Linked DNA regions of Homo sapiens. The protein of the gene in region 4 purifies or fractionates together with the protein of the main gene of each other region. This does not show direct contact. Each region holds a gene or a part of one and is shown on either strand. Other genes may lie near its edges.

Region 1 (4,379 bases), on a different chromosome or scaffold from region 4:
AGGTTAAGACACTGAATTTTATGGGCATTGGGCATGAATTAATCGTTCTCCATCCCTTCTGCCCTGCACATCTGGCTTGGTTGTGTCTTGCACAAAGCAAACCAAGTGGTCGTGGTGTCACCCGAGCCTGCGCCGTGTGAATTGGACATGCAAAAGCAAACGCAGCAGCAGAGTGATCAGCCTCTTTCCACCTGCTTGCATGTCCTATAAAGAGAGCCCTCGAGTCCAAAGTCTGTCCTGGACAGCCTCTGTGATAGGTCTGGGCAGACCTTGGGTGTGTGACGAGGCAGCACCCTGCCCTGCCAGTCACACCACTGGCAGGAACGATTTGGGGCCACCAGTGGCCACAGGGGCAGAAGTCACAGGGTTCCAAGGCCACCTTGAATTCCTCTTTCTTCTGAACTGATTGAAGGAAATTTCATCAGATGTGAATCACTAACAAATTTTCTATTTCTCTCTCCCTCCCTACTTGTCTCTCTCTGATTTTTCTTTTTTGTTCCGTTAATATCCACCAAACTTTTCCTTGCGACCTCCCTATCTGCTCCACCTTCCTCCCGCTAAATGGTGGTTGCTGTGCAATGGGGCATGTGCCTTCTCTCCCTGCCCTGGGTGGGGCTGGCCCTCCCTCCGCACGGCAGTGTGGGGATACGGTCTCCTCTGTGTGACCGTCATCTCCCTCTGCTCCCTCCTGGGGGCCAGCGTGGTGCCCTTCATGAAGAAGACCTTTTACAAGAGGCTGCTGCTCTACTTCATAGCTCTGGCGATTGGAACCCTCTACTCCAACGCCCTCTTCCAGCTCATCCCGGAGGTATGGCAAGCCAGGGCCTTCACCCCGGAGCATGCCGGCGGGCACAGTGGGAGGACCTCCGTTTGGATAGAAGGCATAGAGAGGGCACCTGGAGGCCCTTTCCTTTTGGAAAGCGAAGCTAGAACTTAGGCGTGAACTAGGAGAGGCAGCCCAGCATAGGCTGAAGAGCTGGGTTCAAATCTCAGCTCTGCTATCAGTAGGTTCCGTAACCCCAGGCACACCACTGACCTCACACTGCCTCTGTTTCTTCAGATGTGAAATGGGGAGAGCAATAGACCGGCCTCAGGATGATGTTGTGAGGGTGGAACGAGCGAGTCTGCTGCAGCACTGAGTGCCTGGTGCGGAAAGTGCTGTCTGATGTGGGGTGAAAAGATGCAGTGTAGCGAGCTCACTCTGGCTTAGTTGTGGTGCTCAGATTAAGGCTTTGGGTGCAGAGAAGTTTAAAAAACATCATCAGCCGGGTGCAGTGGCTCACACCTATATTCCCAGCACTTTGGGAGGCTGAGGCAGGTGGATCGTTTGAAGTCAGGAGTTCAAGACCAGCCTGGCCAACATGGTGAAACCCCGTCTATACTAAAAACACAAAAATTAGCCAGACGTGGTAGCGCACGCCTGTAATCCCAGCTATTCGGGAGGCACAAGAATCACTTGAACCCAGGAGATGGAGGCTGCAGTGAGCCGAGATTGCACCACTGCACTCCAGCCTGGGTGACGGGAGTGAGACTCCGTCTCAAAACAAACAAACAAACTCCCACATCATCAGAACCCACAGTTCTCAGTAAAAAGATTGTCCATAGGGAGTTTTGGGGCAAAGGCAATGCAAGTCAAACAATGTCTGGTTTTATATACCTTGATGGTACCTTTGCCTAATAAGTTCATGAGAAAACTTGCCACAAAAGAAGGAGCTGATGGTTCATCTAATTTGGTGTAATCCCCTCAGCAGACCCATTAATTACAATAAGCACAGGACGTCTCCCTGTGGGTGGTCTCGCAGGCCTGGACAGAGCCGCAGTTGAAGCAGAGATGACTGCATGCGCCTCTTACAACACTTGGTGTTTTCTGAAATGTCAGTTGGCTCCCTCCTAGTGGATCCTTAGGTTAACTCCATGGCATCGATAGAACAAGTAACGTTTTACCACGTTGGAATCTGACCTGCACAAGAGCGCATATCCCTGAGTCGAGAACCCAGCTTTTGGGATTTCTGAAGCTCAACCCCATGATTCTGTATTCACCATCCTTTGTGGCTTTTTGCAGAGAAGTGTTCGTTGCCTATTTTCACTTCACTTTTCCCCCAAGATGATTCGACTCCCCTGGAAAGTCAACATGAAAGTGTTGTTTCCCTGGAGGGTGGTGATTCAATTTGGCCTGTTTAAAACATAAAGGCAACAAACAGCCCAGAGTTCCTTGAAGTTGGGATCAACTTTTATTTTGGACCAATTCATGAGAGGGCTGAAGTTTATTCAAGGCCCGTTTCCCATCAGAAAATGGAGGAACAACCCGGTAAATATATATACTTCCTATGTACCCACAAAAAAATTTAAGAATAAAATAGGAGCAAGTCGTTAGATACTTTTTTTTGTTTGTTTTTGAGACAGTCTCACTCTGTCACCCAGACTGGAGTGCAGTGGTGCCATCTCGGCTCACTGCAATCTCTGCCTCCTGGGTTCAAGCCATTCTCCTGCCTCACACTCCCGAGTAGCTGGGATTACAGGTGTGCCACCAGGCCCAGCTAATTTTTGTATTTTTTTTTTTAGTAGAGTTGGGGTTTCGCCATGTTGGCCAGGCTGGTCTCAAAACTCCTGGCCTCAAGTGATCCACCCACCTCGGTCCTTTAAAGTGCATGAGCCACCGTGCCCGGCCAGGTCATTAGACACATTCACAAGAACCCACCATAAATCAGGAGCTTACCCTAGGACAGAATTCTCTTGATTTCTACTCCTGTCCTCTTCCCAGTGGATTCTCCCCTCCCTCTTTGATAAGTGACAGTTTCAGAAAGGACTCAAAACAAAACCCAAAAATTGACGCTCGCAATAACACAGTCCACTTTCTTGGTTCTGTGGTCACTGGGAGGTCTGCGGTTAGGAAAACGCTGCAGTTCTTATTACTTAACTGGGAAATGGGTTTCCCGTTTTAGAAAGTATAATTACACCATCTCCCTTTGTGTTTACAGGCAGGTCAGCCAGGAACACTAGATAAGATGAAAATAAATACAAGTGTCTGCTCCTTCAATATGAAATCTATTGGCAGAGAATGCCTTCATAGCAAAGCACCAAGATAAATCAAAAGTGGAAAACCATATCGGAGGTTTTTCTTTCTGGGATTAAAATTCTACAGATGATCAGTCTTTTGCATCAGCAAATAAGCTTGAGAAGAACCTGGCAGGTTTAGTGATGTCACATCAGGGAAACACCAAGGACTAGATTTTTGCTGGAAAGAGGATGGGTAGACGGCAGAGTTACTCCATTATGCCTCTCTCCTTTCCTAGAGTCAAGGAAGTAGTTAAGAGATAAGAGGGGGATCAGTAAAGATGCTTTATTTTCTTTAAAACTCATTTTCTTTTCCTGGGTCCACAGGCATTTGGTTTCAACCCTCTGGAAGATTATTATGTCTCCAAGTCTGCAGTGGTGTTTGGGGGCTTTTATCTTTTCTTTTTCACAGAGAAGATCTTGAAGATTCTTCTTAAGCAGAAAAATGAGGTGAGGCCCAATTGTTGCTGAAGAAAGCTCTTCTAGGGAAAACACCCATCTCAAACAATGTTGATGTATTGTGGTGGTGGTGGTGATGGTCTTAGCCCAATATCACAATTTCCGTGAAACTCTAATTTCTTGAGGAGACAATCCCATTTCACCTCCTGAGGATATTTGGCCAGAAGTGAGGCCAGACCAGAAACTAGATCTGGCCAGGGTGCCTTCTACTAAGCAGTAGTTTATCCCCTTTGTTTTGTTCTAAGATTATTTCCTTAATATATTTGTATCTTTACAGGATGGGGAGAAGAGCTTGATACCATGCATTCATTCTGTATGAAGTATGAGGCTGCAGAGAAACAGGACTATTATAGTACAGTTTCAAAAAGATATCTTTAGTGGCTGGCATGCAGTTATTCCCTAAATAGCTGCTGAATTGAGTGAGATTAGCCATTGCAAAAGAGGAGCTCTAAATATTTGAGCAGTGGCTGCCTTGGTGGAATAAGCATGTACCCCGAGGAGACAGCTTTGATATCTGTCTGACACCAGGTCCTTCGCACTTGGTGCAGATTTATATATATAGATATTAGAAACGGGGTCTCGCTTCGTTGCCCAGGCTGCTCTCAAACTTCTCAGCTCAAGCAGTCCTCCCACCTCGGCCTCCCACAGTGCTGGGATTACAGGTGTGAGCCACCGTGCCCGACCATGGCTTTATATAATAGCTTTTGCTATGTTTCTGGGCACGTGACCTGCTTGTGTCATCTTCGATGGTAAGGCTGAGGTCTTCCAGTGTGTGAAGCACTTCCTTGGAGCAGGTGCTCAATCAGGTTTGTGGTTTTGGTGAATGTCATGCTGATCCCTCCCTGTCACCCTTCCAGCATCATCAT
Region 2 (3,897 bases), on a different chromosome or scaffold from region 4:
TAGGGTTTATGGCATACTTGCCCTCTTCTCTGTATCTCAGTAATAAAACTACTACTTAACTGAGCACGTACTTTACTAAGTATACTACATGGATTATTTTCAATTAGTGGCATTTTCTTTTTCTTTCTCTTTTTTTGACACAGAGTCTCACTCTGTCACCCGGGCTGGGGTGCAGTGGCGCAGTATCGGCTCACTGCAACTTCCGCCTCCCAGGCTCAAGCGATCCTCCCACCTCAGCCTCCTAAGTAGATGGGACCACAGGCACGCACCACCATGCCCGGCTATTTTTTCATATTTTCAGTAGAGACTGGGTCTTGCCATGTTGCCCAGGCTGGTCTTGAACTCTTGAGCTCAAGTGATCCACCTGCCTCAGCCTCCCAAAATGCTAGGATTACAAGTGTGAGCCACCACATCTGGCCAGGCATTTTCTAAGATTATAATAATCTCCTGACAGATACCTGTTGTCAAACCAAAAATGAGGAGAAAAAAAATATTTTTTGCTGCTCAGTAACTATCTTAACTTCAACTGCCAGAAAGAGTAAAGGCTTCCTATTCTACCCAATTCACCTTACTGTGCCTGGTGATTCTGACAAACTCCTGATGCAAAAATTAGTTAGTGACCATGGTGCTGAGATGCAATTTGAAATATTAGGGAAGCGGAAAATATTTATCACTAAAAATATCTTTACAAATATTTCAAAATAATGTGTGCATGAAAAATTTTATCATCACTAAGAGTCTTTTTCTTCCATCTTGGGAAGTGTATAAGCAGAGGCTCCATTTCCTGTGTGGCTGGCACATAATACATATGCAAATAGAGTCATCCCTCAAAATCCACGGAGGATTGGTTCCAGGACCCCCCTGTGGATACCAAAATCCACAGATGCTCAAGTCCTTTATATAAAATGGTGTAGTATTTGCATAACACACATCCTCCAGTATACTTTAAATCATCTCTAGATTATTTATAATACCTAACACAATGTAAATGCTAATGTAAATAGTTGTTATACTGTATTATTGAGGAATAATGACAAGAAAAAAACTGCACATGTTCAAGTACAGATGCAACTATTTTTTTTTAATATTTTTTACCCTAGATTGGTTAAATCTGTGGATGCGAAACCCCCAGATACAGAGGGCCAACTTTGTATGTATCAGGAACAAACAGTGAATTATCAGGAATGCTATAGGGAAAATGTATGCCTCAGACAAGAAGAACCAGATAACCACTAAATTTCCTACCAACTTTTTTCATTATTCTCAAATAGATCCAATTTGGGAGTTCTGCAGTTAACCTTTTCAAATTGTCTTTAGCTGACAATATCTAATTTGATTTTCTTTTACCCCTCATTCCTTCCATATAAAGTGCAGCTTTAAAATACTCAATTGTTTCCTTCAAGTTAGGAAATCTGAAACATAAATATTTTCTATTTGAGACGTGGGAGCCACTCAAACTATTTTCATCAATGTAAGTGATGATGTTCTCTACTGTGAATAAAATAGTAGCAGAAAAAAGTTCTAGATAGAAAGGCTTAAGAAATGATGACCATATCTCAACTCTTTCAGAAGTAGGTCTTTAAAGAATGGATATAACATTTTCTTTGAAGTTCTATAAATACTTGTCCTGACAAAACTCTACTATTTTGTGATTATCCACTAGTTTAGCTTATCTGGACAATTATGGATCATTTCAAGTTGACTATGCTCTGGTATTACCTTTCTCATCATAGTAAATGGAGATGTCTCCTGTTGATGTAAATACAATTTCATCTATGTTAGCAGCAAGGGCATTTTTATGGTTGTCAGGTAGTGAAGTAACCTTTTCTTTCAATGCATGTAGCACCTAAGTTTGAAAAAAGCAAGCCATTAGTTCACTGATACAATTTTTGAAAACTTTCAAAAAGTGATCTTTATCATGGAATACATTTTTCCAAACCTATTTTTAAATTTACTACCGTATTTACTCATCCTCAAAAGCAAGGCTGAAATGTATCTCATTATTCAAGTAGGTAATTCCTAACAGAACATTCCATATAAGAGCAATTGGAAGACATCATGATTACTTCATTATGCCTTAAGTGGCAGGAGTTATTCCATGCTTTTATATGACCCAAAGTACCCATAAGAACAGATACACAGACTCTACTTTGGATGCTGGCACACACACTATTTTTAAGCATAAATAAGGAAAATGTGCATCATTCTATTGCAAGAGAATAGCATTTATTTTTAAAGCAAAATGTAAAATATACTTTACCTCTTTGGCCACAAGTTCTTCCAACAGATCAAATTTACACTGTGACAGCAACTTGGATACATGAGCAAAAGCCTTGAAAAAAATATTAAGGGAAGTGTGGGGATTATTATTTCAAAATACCATACCATGTTCATATTTAAATGGCTAAGTGTAATACAGACTATTTTATGGTAATAGTGATAAACAACATCAAATATTAATTTATCAAGGCATGACTCTTGGTTGACTTTTCATATATGGCCTTCCCACATATATAGCAGTAAGTGACTTGACCTTTAATTCTGGATCCACTCTCAGGACCGGGAAATGATAGTGTGTGGTGTACAATCTAGATGTCTCAATAAAAATCCTCCTTTATATTTCTTTTTAAAATGATGAAGTAAACAATCATTTGGCAGTTATATGACCTACCTCTTAATCATGCATAGATAGCAGTTGGAAAGGAGAACAGTCGAGACTGCATTGGGAGTCTGGAAATCTGGGCTGTAGTCTGAATCTCAGTATGGGAGATAATGTAGGTTTGGGAAAGTGGGAGAGAAGGTCATTAGTTTATGTGGTCTAAAACAGTAGATCCTAACTTTGAAGTATGAAATTCCATTTTCAAGGAGGGAAAAACCCAACTGCAATTCTCCTCACTGCTAGCAATGAGAAAGCAAACTGTGAGTTAAGATCCTACCTGTCTTCAGGGAACTTTCAGTCTACATGGGAAAAGGACAAGTAAACTGACAAGTTGAAGAATTTTGACAGGGATAAGAACAGGATGACTTGGGAGCATACAGAAGAGCCTTCTAACCCAATCTGGGAGGATCAGAGAGGGCTTCCTAAAGGAAGAAACATCTAAGCTGAAATCTAGGCTGCCAGAGGATGCACAGGCATGTCAGATATGGCATGTCAGAGAATACTGCCTAACTGTTATAGGATGAATTGTGCTCTCCTTCCCCGAAAATTTATGCTGAAGCTCTAACCCCCAGAACCTTGAAATGTGACTATATTTGGAGATAAAGCCTTAAAGAGATGATTAAGTTAAATGAGACCATCAGGGTGGGCCAAAATCCAATCTGACTGGCATCCTTATAAGAGGAGCAAATGTGGAGTAAGAGCCACCAGGAGCACGCATGCACAGGGAGGACCATGCAAGGACACAGCAAGAAGACGGCCATCTGTAAGCTGAGAGAGGCCTCAGGAGAAAACAACCCCTCCGACACCTTGATACTGAAATTCAGGTTGTTTGCTTTATATAAGCAACAATGCTTACAGGCTGGCTGATGAATGGGGTGGAAATACTGCTTAATAGCAAGGAAGGAGGTGAAAATAGCTAACAGCTGGAGGACCACTAGGACTGGAGTGACCCCAAAAATGCTGCATGCTCCTCTGTGTGTTCAGAGGAAACAAGTACTGAGGCCTGATGCCTGCCCATGGTGGGGAGATGATTTCCATTCCTTACTGAAACATAAATGAACTGGTACCATCATATGTGTTATGAGGTGGACAAGCTCATATATCATCAGTGGGCATTGTACAGAACAGTAGGATCAATACAACTTACCACTGCATGGACAAAAGACTTTGAGAACTGACAAGAGCAGAGGTTTATCAATTATAATGCTGAGTTAAGCATCTTAATCAAGTTTGTTCTT
Region 3 (4,379 bases), on a different chromosome or scaffold from region 4:
AAAGAAAAGACACTGAGACATCTTCAACCATAAACAACCAGCCTACACCAATGACCCTCCAGGTGGCTACTGAGAAGTGGGAAGTCACAGATGTTCTATGGCAGAGGTTTTCTGAGAAGCCTGGACCCCCGTCAATTCCCACAACCAACCCAACACCTCGCACTTAAGACAACCGGGCCTGCAGCAAAAACTGAAGGGAAAACTAAAATAGTGTGAAATGGCACTTACGATTATCATCAAAACCATTGGTCCCAGGTAAATGATGATGAAGAAAAATGCAATCATGGCCAAAGTCAGGATGCCTCTCACCCACCAGTTCTTCCATCTAGGTCAGAGAGCAGGGGAAGGAGAAAACACCAGTTAGGAGCCCAGAAAAAAACCAATGCACAAACTCAAGGGATATGGATCTTCCTGAGATGAGGGCCCTGAGCTCAGTCCTTTCCAGATTCACCGTGACGGAGGCACCAGCCACATGCTGGCAGGAGCAGGACCACTAGTACCAATGCCTAAGTCACAACCAAACTTGGCAAAAAATAAACCTAGCTTATATCTTAAAGAAGGTATCAGGCAAAACACAAACAAACAAAAAAACCAAGGGAAATGTAGTGCCCTCTGCTTCTGTATCCACTTGGATGGTTTCTACAGCTGACTATCTGAAGAAAAAAATATTTTTTTCCAGCAGCAGGATCCTACACTGCACTGCCCTGAATAATTATGGGAATAATAGTAACATTATGCAATGATAATAACAGCTACCATAAATATGCATAATTTTTTTTTTTTTTTTGAGACAGAGTTTCCTCTGTAGCCCAGGTTGGAGTGCAGTGGCACAATCTCAGCTCACTGCAAGCTCCGCCCAGGTTCATGCCATTCTCTTGCCTCAGCCTCCCGAGTAGCTGGGACTACAGGCGCCTGCCACCACACCCAGCTAATTTTTTTGTATTTTTAGTAGAGACGGGGTTTCACCATGGTCTCGATCTCCTGACCTCCTGATCCACCCGCCTCGGCCTCCCAAAGTGCTGGAATTACAGGCGTGAGCCACCATACCCGGCCTGAGTAAGGTAATTTTATGAGGACTTTACATATATTAACTCCTTCAATCCTCAACACACTTCGCTTTTACAGATGAGGAAATGGAGGCACAGGTCAAACAGCTGGCAAACAGTAAAGCTGGGATCTGAATCCAAGGGTCTGGCTGCAAAGTCCACGCCCTTAACCACTGCACAATTCAGACTCCCAAGGGGACAGTTGGAGGCACACATAGGAACACTGAGATAATGCTTTGGGGTCTTATAATGTGTTTTTGATCTACTCACATAGCTGTGTTAAAAGAACCAGGTTCTCAAGGGCCAAAAGTTTTAACACTAGATTCACCTAGGTTAAGATGTTTCCCAGTTCTTCCTGGAGAATTTAAGGAACTGTTCACAAAGGATGTGAGAGAAACTAAACTCTGAACTGGAAACGTGGACTCCTCAGTGAAAAGCAGCCTGCCCATTAATCGCAAACCCAAGGCTGGTTTCCTGTGCTGTGCAGTGTCAGCTGACCTCACCCACCTCCATCCCTCCTGTCCCCTCTTCCTCTTTGAACTGCACTTCCTAGTCCAGTCTGAAGCACCCTTCCGGGGCCAGATCCTTCCAGCCTTGGTTGCCCTCCCCTCCTGGTCACTGTGCTCACTGCCACTGCTAAGCACTAGATTACACTCAATGGAGCCTGGAGCAGTGGCATGGGAGGCTGAGGCAAGACAGCGGGCCTGCTCTGCAAGACCACGGGCTCTCTGCAGGCTCTTCCAGGGCACTTGGACATGGTGCAAAGCCCCCAACAAGCACCTGCATCATTAAGCCAGGTTACCTTGAAGACAAGTTGGAAAGGGCCCTATTGAGGACCTCCGGGGTATCATCTGCAGAGACTGGCAGGGGTGCGGATTCTGCCCGGCTCTCACTGTCCGATGCAGTCTCTCCATCTACCTTTGCTTCTGACTCTGACTCCTAAGTGGCAGAAATACAGAAGAGAAAAAGGTCAAAAGTGCCGAGTAGACCATTGAGAAGTCTATGCCTGTCATGAGAGATCTGTGGGGAAAGACTCCAAACAGGGCCTAAGAACCTGGCACAGTCAGGTGATGGGACTGACAGGACTAGCAGCAATCCTGACACTGTTGTGACATGTGCCAAGGTGGCCAGCCACACTCTGCTGGAAGAGAGGTGTGCATCTGCACCGCGTACCATCTGCTTAACCGCAGAGGGCAGATCCAAAAGAGAGAGAACATGGCTCCTTTGTATCCAAAGAATGCAAAAGGGAGGCTGGGACCGGTTTTAACAGGAGGTTATCCCTGAGCCTGCTAGGGCAGCCAATGGCACTGACCAGGCTCTCTCAGGGGAAGCCAGGTGGTGAGGCTGTTGCCCCTGTAGACCTGTTAATGTCAACATGTCCCAAGTCCAGAGTGTTATTTCCGGACTTCACTAGAGCACTCTGTGAGGAGGTCAATCACAGTCAGTGTGGACAACGAACCAGACAGCCTACTCCAGACAACGCTCGAGCCAGGACTGGTGCACCTCAGTCCTTTCCCTGCCACCAGGCCCTGGGTGACAAAAGACCCACAGGAAGTCACCCTGCTCCCAGCCTGGGTGAGGGAACCAGAGCCATGCCAGCAGCAAGCTCTTTACCCAAAGTATCAAGGGACAGGCTATTCTGAATCCTAGGAACCATCCTACCACTCAAGTATTTTCTTTCATAGGGGAATTCAGAATAGTTGCTATGAGAAGAGGTGGAGGAGAAAGTAAATCACTTAGAGTAACAACACTACTTAGTATCTGTATAGCCCTGCAAGGTCTGAAGAGCCTTTCCCATGCAAGCTTCAGAGCAGTACTGGGAGGAAGGGAAGGGACAGGAGAAGCCCCATTTACAAATAAGAAACGGGATCTGGGAAGTTCAATGCGTGGCCCAATGTCTCATATTAACCCAGGTCCTCTGACTTCCCTGATGACTGATGAATACACGGAATTGTGACTGTCTCACATGTTCACTGGCCACTTGGTATCTTCTGTCAAGTGTCTGTCAAATCACTGGCTAGTTTTTCTACGGAGTTTTCTGCCTTCCTTTTTTTATTGATTTGTAGTGGTTTATGTGCTCCAGATTTGAGTACTTTGTGTTACTAATATGTTCTCTCAGACTGCTCTAACCCCCACCTTCACCTCAGGCGAGGTTAGACACCCCAGTGATTTGCTCTCTTAACACTAGAACCTTCTCCCTCTCAGCGCTGACCACAACGGGGACTTTTGTAAATGTCTCCTTGGCTGACGACAAACTCCTTAAAGACAAGAACATAACTTCTTGTTCTCATTATCCCCATGCACGGCACACAGCAAAACACTTACTAATGGATGGAAGAAGAGAAGAATTAGGTCCAGGTGTGTAAAGAAAAACCCAGCCCCTGCCCTCAGGGAGACAGCTCTTTCTAAATTAATTTACAACTGTGACAAGACAGAGGGCCTTAACTAGTGCAGATGAGCAAAACAGAAAAACAAAACAGATTAGCAACACAGAGGGCCTCGCCTAGTGCAGACTGCTGATAAAAAAGAGACAGCTGGCTTTGGTAAAGGCCCAATAAAGACGGCCTCATCATTAGGATCCAAGGGAGAGAGCCACAGCTTCTGAAGACACAGACTGCTCCCTACTCTGCCACAGTCGAGACAGGTGGCTCTGGATAAGTCACCCAAGTGCCTCTGTACTTTGGCGTCTTCACCTTATATAAGGTAAGGACCCTCCTTCCCATGGGGATTCCTTGAAGCGACATAACCAAACTCTCACCCAGGGCTGTGTCCCAGTACACCACTCCAGAGTTTCTGAAACACAGTAAGGTCTCCAGAGTCGTCCCTCTCCAGGGAGACTAAATGAAGACAAAGCATTCACAACAGCTGTCCAATCTTTATTTCAACATTGACACCCACACACCATCGGCAACCACCAGTTGCCAGTAATATTACGGTAATCATTGCGAGTTACAAGGTAATGATGCTGCCTGATCACCTGGCTTTGACCTCTAAAACCTCGGGGCTTCAAAATGCTAGCACCTGGACCCCACTGAGGCTCCCACAGATGCATTCAGGAGCCTCTAGAAGCTGCAGGGACTGCGCTCCAGAGCAGCAGGGGAGAGGGCACTCACACACAGAAAGCCCGGCACAAGGTTATTTTTAACTTATCCATCCTGTTGTCAAGGAGACTCACAAAGGCTGCTAGTTCCCCAGGCAGGGAAGGACAGGAACGGAACCCAGGCAGCGTCCTGCGAGGGAGGAGCAGGCAGCTCCAGCTCCGTGCTAAGAGCCTCTCTGGACCTTCCGTTAGCCCAGCACTGCATCCTGCAACACTGTCAGACCTGACTCCTT
Region 4 (5,000 bases):
ACATCAGACTCTAGGTTCTTTGGCTTTTGGACTCTGGGACTTACACCAGGGGTTTGTTGGGGGCTCTCTGGCCTTTGGCCACAGACTGAAGGCTGCACTGTCAGCTTACCTACTTTTGAGGCTTTTGGACTCGGACTGAGCCACTACTGGCTTCTTTCTTCCCCAGTTTGCAGACGGCCTATTGTGAGACTTCGCCTTGTGATCATGTGAGCCAACTCTCCCTAATAAACTCTCTTTCATATATACATATATCCTATTAATTCTGTCCCTCTGGAGAGCCCTAATACAAGCCCATAGTTAATTCCATGGGAAAGGCAGAGAATAGCTCTTCCCTGACAATTCTGTGTAAAAAAGGACGGAATGGAACAGTATTAGCAAATACTCATGGAGGGAGAGTAGAAGGAAGAAGCCAGAACTATCAAAGGCACTGCAGGACTGGCCCTTTCAATTTGGAACAAAATCTGCTCAGATTCTCAATAGTCTTTTAACTTTTACCACTGCTTGAGTTTAAAAGTGCTAATTACTCACTCACACCCTTTGCCCTTGGGGTTTTGATCAATTAAGAAGTAGGCATAGGAAGCATGTAAGGATAAAAATATCAGCTTTATTCCTAACGAAGTTATATTGGAGAACATGACTTGGACTCCCGTACCCCAGGTTTCTACTTTGAGTTTTGCGTGTGTGCCACCGAGGCCCTACAGAATGCACTGCTGTCACCTGGGTAGGCCAGAAGAGTTCATCAAGGGGGTCTTCATTCCCAGCCACACCGTAAAAGACCCAGGCTATTCCTGTGCTAGCCCTGTCCACAAGAAGAACTTGGATATCAGACTTTGGCCATCTTGCTGGTCTGGTAAAGCCTTTCTAAGATGCTGGAGAGGAGTTGGTGATGGATAAAAAGACAAGGCTGCACTAGCTTTGACCCAATAGTTACTGAGAAATGAAGTGTTGATAGAATTTCTTCTTTTATAGGTGGCAGCAATGTGGGTAGAGGAAGACTCAACTCCTTCCTACAACACAGGGCAGAAATTAATACTTATAAAGGTAAACTTGACTTAAAAAAGAAAATATTATGGTGAATCTACTCTGATTATGAAGAATGGAGAAATGTGGTATATGTTTCAGACCAGATAGATTTCTATCAGAAGTATTTTTAAAAATATTTACGTTAGGGTGCTTAAATATATAACCTTCTATGATCTAGAACACTGACAAATATGTATAACCCTTCTCCAGCAATCCTGAATAGTGTATATAGTACACAACTGCCCCATTTTAGTATTGCATTGCAAAAGAACAAACACAACATTTTTAAATACTTTTAGTTCACATTTTTTAATGTTTAAAAACTATGTTAACAGAGCAGTTATAGAACAGAACTTCTTATATTTCTTTATTTACACCACACTCTGAAAAAAAAAACCCAGTTCTATTTGATTAACTATGAATAGCAAAGTTTTGTGACTTGTGACTCACTTAAATCACCCATCTGAAATTCATTTACAAGGTTTTTACATTAATAAAACAGTAGTGTGGTACATGTATTGGACTCAGATGAAGTCTAAAGTACACTGGACTCTAGAGAGTGGATTACATACCAACGACCAAGATTCAAGTGTTTGGGGAAAAAAATACCTTAGACAGTCTATGTTGGCGTCAACACTAAAATAAAAGGCAAACATGCAGGACTTTCAAAGCTTGATTAGATAATGGTTCTTTGTTTTCTTTCCTTCAAATTTGTGCTCATAATTAATATTCAGGTTCCCTCTCCCCGCTTTCATAGATCCCAAAGTTTGAGAAATGCAGCAATTCAATTGTGAAAAAAACATTCTTCTCCCCAGCTTCTGTTTTCATATGTACTGTGTAGTGGTATCAGTGTTAAAAATGGAAGATCATTATGAAGAAACAATTTGTCATTTGGGTATATCTGTTTCTATAGGACAAGGATTTGTGTCTAAATATTCCTTACTTGTATCTCAGAGGACTATCTGTTAAATAATTGATCTTAATGCCAGCATAAGAAATCAAGGGAACTATTTCTCAGACATTTCTTTCTCTAAATTAAGTAGGGTTTCAGGTTCCAAGTTTACATTGAGAGAACTATGTTACCTGGGAGAGAATGTAAATTTTTCTAATTCCCAAACAAAACCACTAATTTCTAGGAAACATTTATTGTTTATATGCAGATCCTAGAGACTTCTATTTCAGTGCAGATCAACAACTTCAAAAATATACAGCCTCCTATTTATTTACAATAATATTTACATACAAATGAAGTATTTCCTGCAATAAGCCTCAGCTGCATAGATTCTTCCTTTAAAAACGTAAATTTGAGCCTGTATACAGATGGGCCCAGTTTCATAGCCCTTCCTTAGATAAAAGCCTAAAGAAGGAAAATGTCTGCACCTTGTGAACTTTACATATTTTGCAAGAACTTTCTCTTTGAGATTTAGTGATAGTTTTTAGTTGTTAGACACCCCACCTTCAGCTTGTACCTGAAAGCTTTATCTCGTTATAAATAATTCACTGTAATTTAGGGGAAGTATGTCCTGTTGCTAAAGGATTCTCAAACCTGCCATCCCCAAGGAAAATCATGTATTAGTATTGCTAAATGATGGTCTGTATATTCTTTGTTTTGAAGGTGGCTAGATGTTTGCTGTAAACTTGAATGGGAGAATTATATTCTTAAAGTTTACACCCCCTATAAGCCTAAAGCCATTTAAATTGATAAACTGAGAGAGACTAATAGATTTTGCTCTAAGGTATAAAATCCATTATCTGATCATATTCCTGACCTCCCCCCGACTCCAACTAAATGTGCCATAGTCCAACACTGTGCCTCACTGAATTGGAACTCAGTATTTCATTCTTTTGAGAGCAGTTTGTAGCTCCTTAAGCAGAGCAGACCTTTCAGTAGAGAATTCGCTTTAAAAGGAGGACAGGATTATCACCACACGATTAACACAAACACTGGAGAACTTCTGACACAAATTCAGTATTTCTTCTAAGTCTGCATTTACAAAGGGTCTTTTATTTTAATTTCTTTCACAACTGCCTCGCCCCAACCAAAGCCTCACTTTCATTTCCTCACAGCTTTAAAAAATAAAATATTATCATGCCTCAGCCCGAGGTAACACCGAGTGCAGGCAGCCTGTGTTTAGGAATTTGCACCTGCGCTGCTATTTTCAACGAGAAGGGGATAACCAGGTGGCAGCGCTGGATTCACTCACTTTCTTGCCATTGCAGAGACCCCTGCCGCCAGGCTCCTTTCCTCCCCTCCCTAAAGCCTGGCTCCTGTATGTTGCACCATGAGTCCTAGGAATCATCTGGTGAGGGAGGACTAATGGGAAGTAAAAGGGAGACTCATTGGCTTAGGGTGGTTCTCAAACTTGATGCGCTTTAGAATCATTTGCTGAGTCCCTCCCTGAGAGCTTCTGACTTCACCATGTCTGGGAGGGGGCTGAGAATCTGCATTCTAATGAGGTCCCCGATGATGCTGATGCTACTGGTCTAGGGGCCACACTTTGAGAACCACTGGCTTAGAGGCATGAATCAAGCTCTAGAAAGCAGTCAGTTCCAGGGTAATAGTCTTAGGTGCTCGCCGAAGCACTGAGGAATCTTACCACAACCCTGTGTCCACCACAAGCCCTATCACCATCACCCATCTGGGTGCTTCTTTTTCTCAACAGGGTCTGTAACTGTAAAAAAGGAAAGTGGGTGGAGAGGTTTTTTTTTCCCCCTTTTTTCTTGTTTTCTAACCTCCCAGCTTATTCCTGGAGAGTTAAAACACAGTTACTAGCACTAAAAACATTAAAAGTGCTGCGCGCTGGCCTCAATGACTGGTACATTGGAGAAGCTATGCAGCAGCATCCTTTTCTGTGGTGGGCAGGGCAGGAGATGAACCATAGGAGCCAAAAGTCAGACAAACAGAAGAAGGCACACCAAGCCTGAACCCTCCGGACAACAGCAGAGTTACCAGCTGAGGGATGTCCCTGGAGGTTTCTGACCCATGAGAGGCCCCCTCACCCTCCTTCACCCTCCTCCTACCACCAAGCTCTCCAGCAGTCATGGACTTATTCCTCCCCGTTTTTACTGGACACCATGTTTCAGGCCAATCTGGTCACCTGTAGTCTGGTGGCATCTCTACCCCTACTGTCCAGTAGGTGGGATGTGGCTGGGATGGACAGTCCAGATTCTACTAACAGGCAACTCTGAACAAACACCCTCCCTGGAAACAATATTATATTTGATGGTTAGATTCTTTAGCAAACCTATTACATTATTCGATGTCAGCTAACCTATTGGTTTGATCATCTTTTCCAGCTGCTCTAGGGGCCTAACCACCATGGATAACCTGGTCTCTAAAGGAAAATACATTCCAGGTTGCAAACAACCAACTGACAACCTTTTGGAATATGATCTCCTTATACACTGGGGCTGCCTGTGCCTAAACACAGTAGATTTCCCTCCTGTGCGTATTTCATCAGCCCCACTTCCAATAAGTAACATTAAGTAAATTAGGGATTGACAGTATTCTGTGTTACAATAACTAGAGAACAGTTCTAAGTCCAAAGTGTGGAACTGGCACTGTTCACTAGTATAGAGATCCTACCTACCAAAGGAAAACGTGCTGCTCCCCATGCCTAGGGTATAGTATTCTTTAATCTACTAATTTAGCAGAAAAACTTCCATAGCACTTGACTGTGCTGTTTAAATTCGACCTAACATCTGTGATACATGTATTTTTGGCTACCAATTAACTATTCTGAATAAGAATAAGAGCAGTATACTTTACAGCTAATCTCACACAAAGGATGTAACTAATCAGTGATATTTGACGAATTATGGTAGGGTCTATTATATTCAGTCAACAACAAATTTAGAGAAACATACAAAGGTTTTTAAAAATATGGGTGGTGTCACACAGATCAACAACACTGTGCCTCCTCTAAATAAATCTATTTTAAATAAATATTCCTTGTATTGACACATGAAACCCAGAG

The links.
Region 1: the proteins of SLC38A1 (region 4) and SLC39A14 purify together in Homo sapiens (affinity purification with mass spectrometry; one large-scale study listed by BioGRID and IntAct). This does not show direct contact.
Region 2: the proteins of SLC38A1 (region 4) and MAIP1 purify together in Homo sapiens (affinity purification with mass spectrometry; one large-scale study listed by BioGRID and IntAct). This does not show direct contact.
Region 3: the proteins of SLC38A1 (region 4) and CDS2 purify together in Homo sapiens (affinity purification with mass spectrometry; one large-scale study listed by BioGRID and IntAct). This does not show direct contact.

What each region holds. Positions count from the first base shown.
Region 1 is NC_000008.11:22,411,399-22,415,777, forward strand, and holds part of SLC39A14 (metal cation symporter ZIP14 isoform a precursor), read left to right. Parts: intron 1-638; coding exon 639-808; intron 809-3,381; coding exon 3,382-3,504; intron 3,505-4,370; coding exon 4,371-4,379. UniProt on the Homo sapiens protein: Electroneutral transporter of the plasma membrane mediating the cellular uptake of the divalent metal cations zinc, manganese and iron that are important for tissue homeostasis, metabolism, development and immunity.
Region 2 is NC_000002.12:199,957,703-199,961,599, reverse strand, and holds part of MAIP1 (m-AAA protease-interacting protein 1, mitochondrial isoform 1 precursor), read right to left. Parts: intron 2,333-3,897; coding exon 2,261-2,332; intron 1,847-2,260; coding exon 1,720-1,846; intron 1-1,719. UniProt on the Homo sapiens protein: Promotes sorting of SMDT1/EMRE in mitochondria by ensuring its maturation.
Region 3 is NC_000020.11:5,171,129-5,175,507, reverse strand, and holds part of CDS2 (phosphatidate cytidylyltransferase 2), read right to left. Parts: intron 1,986-4,379; coding exon 1,849-1,985; intron 326-1,848; coding exon 229-325; intron 1-228. UniProt on the Homo sapiens protein: Catalyzes the conversion of phosphatidic acid (PA) to CDP-diacylglycerol (CDP-DAG), an essential intermediate in the synthesis of phosphatidylglycerol, cardiolipin and phosphatidylinositol.
Region 4 is NC_000012.12:46,181,750-46,186,749, forward strand, and holds the end of SLC38A1 (sodium-coupled neutral amino acid symporter 1), read right to left. Parts: 3' UTR 1,314-5,000; downstream 1-1,313. UniProt on the Homo sapiens protein: Symporter that cotransports short-chain neutral amino acids and sodium ions from the extraccellular to the intracellular side of the cell membrane. The transport is elctrogenic, pH dependent and driven by the Na(+) electrochemical gradient.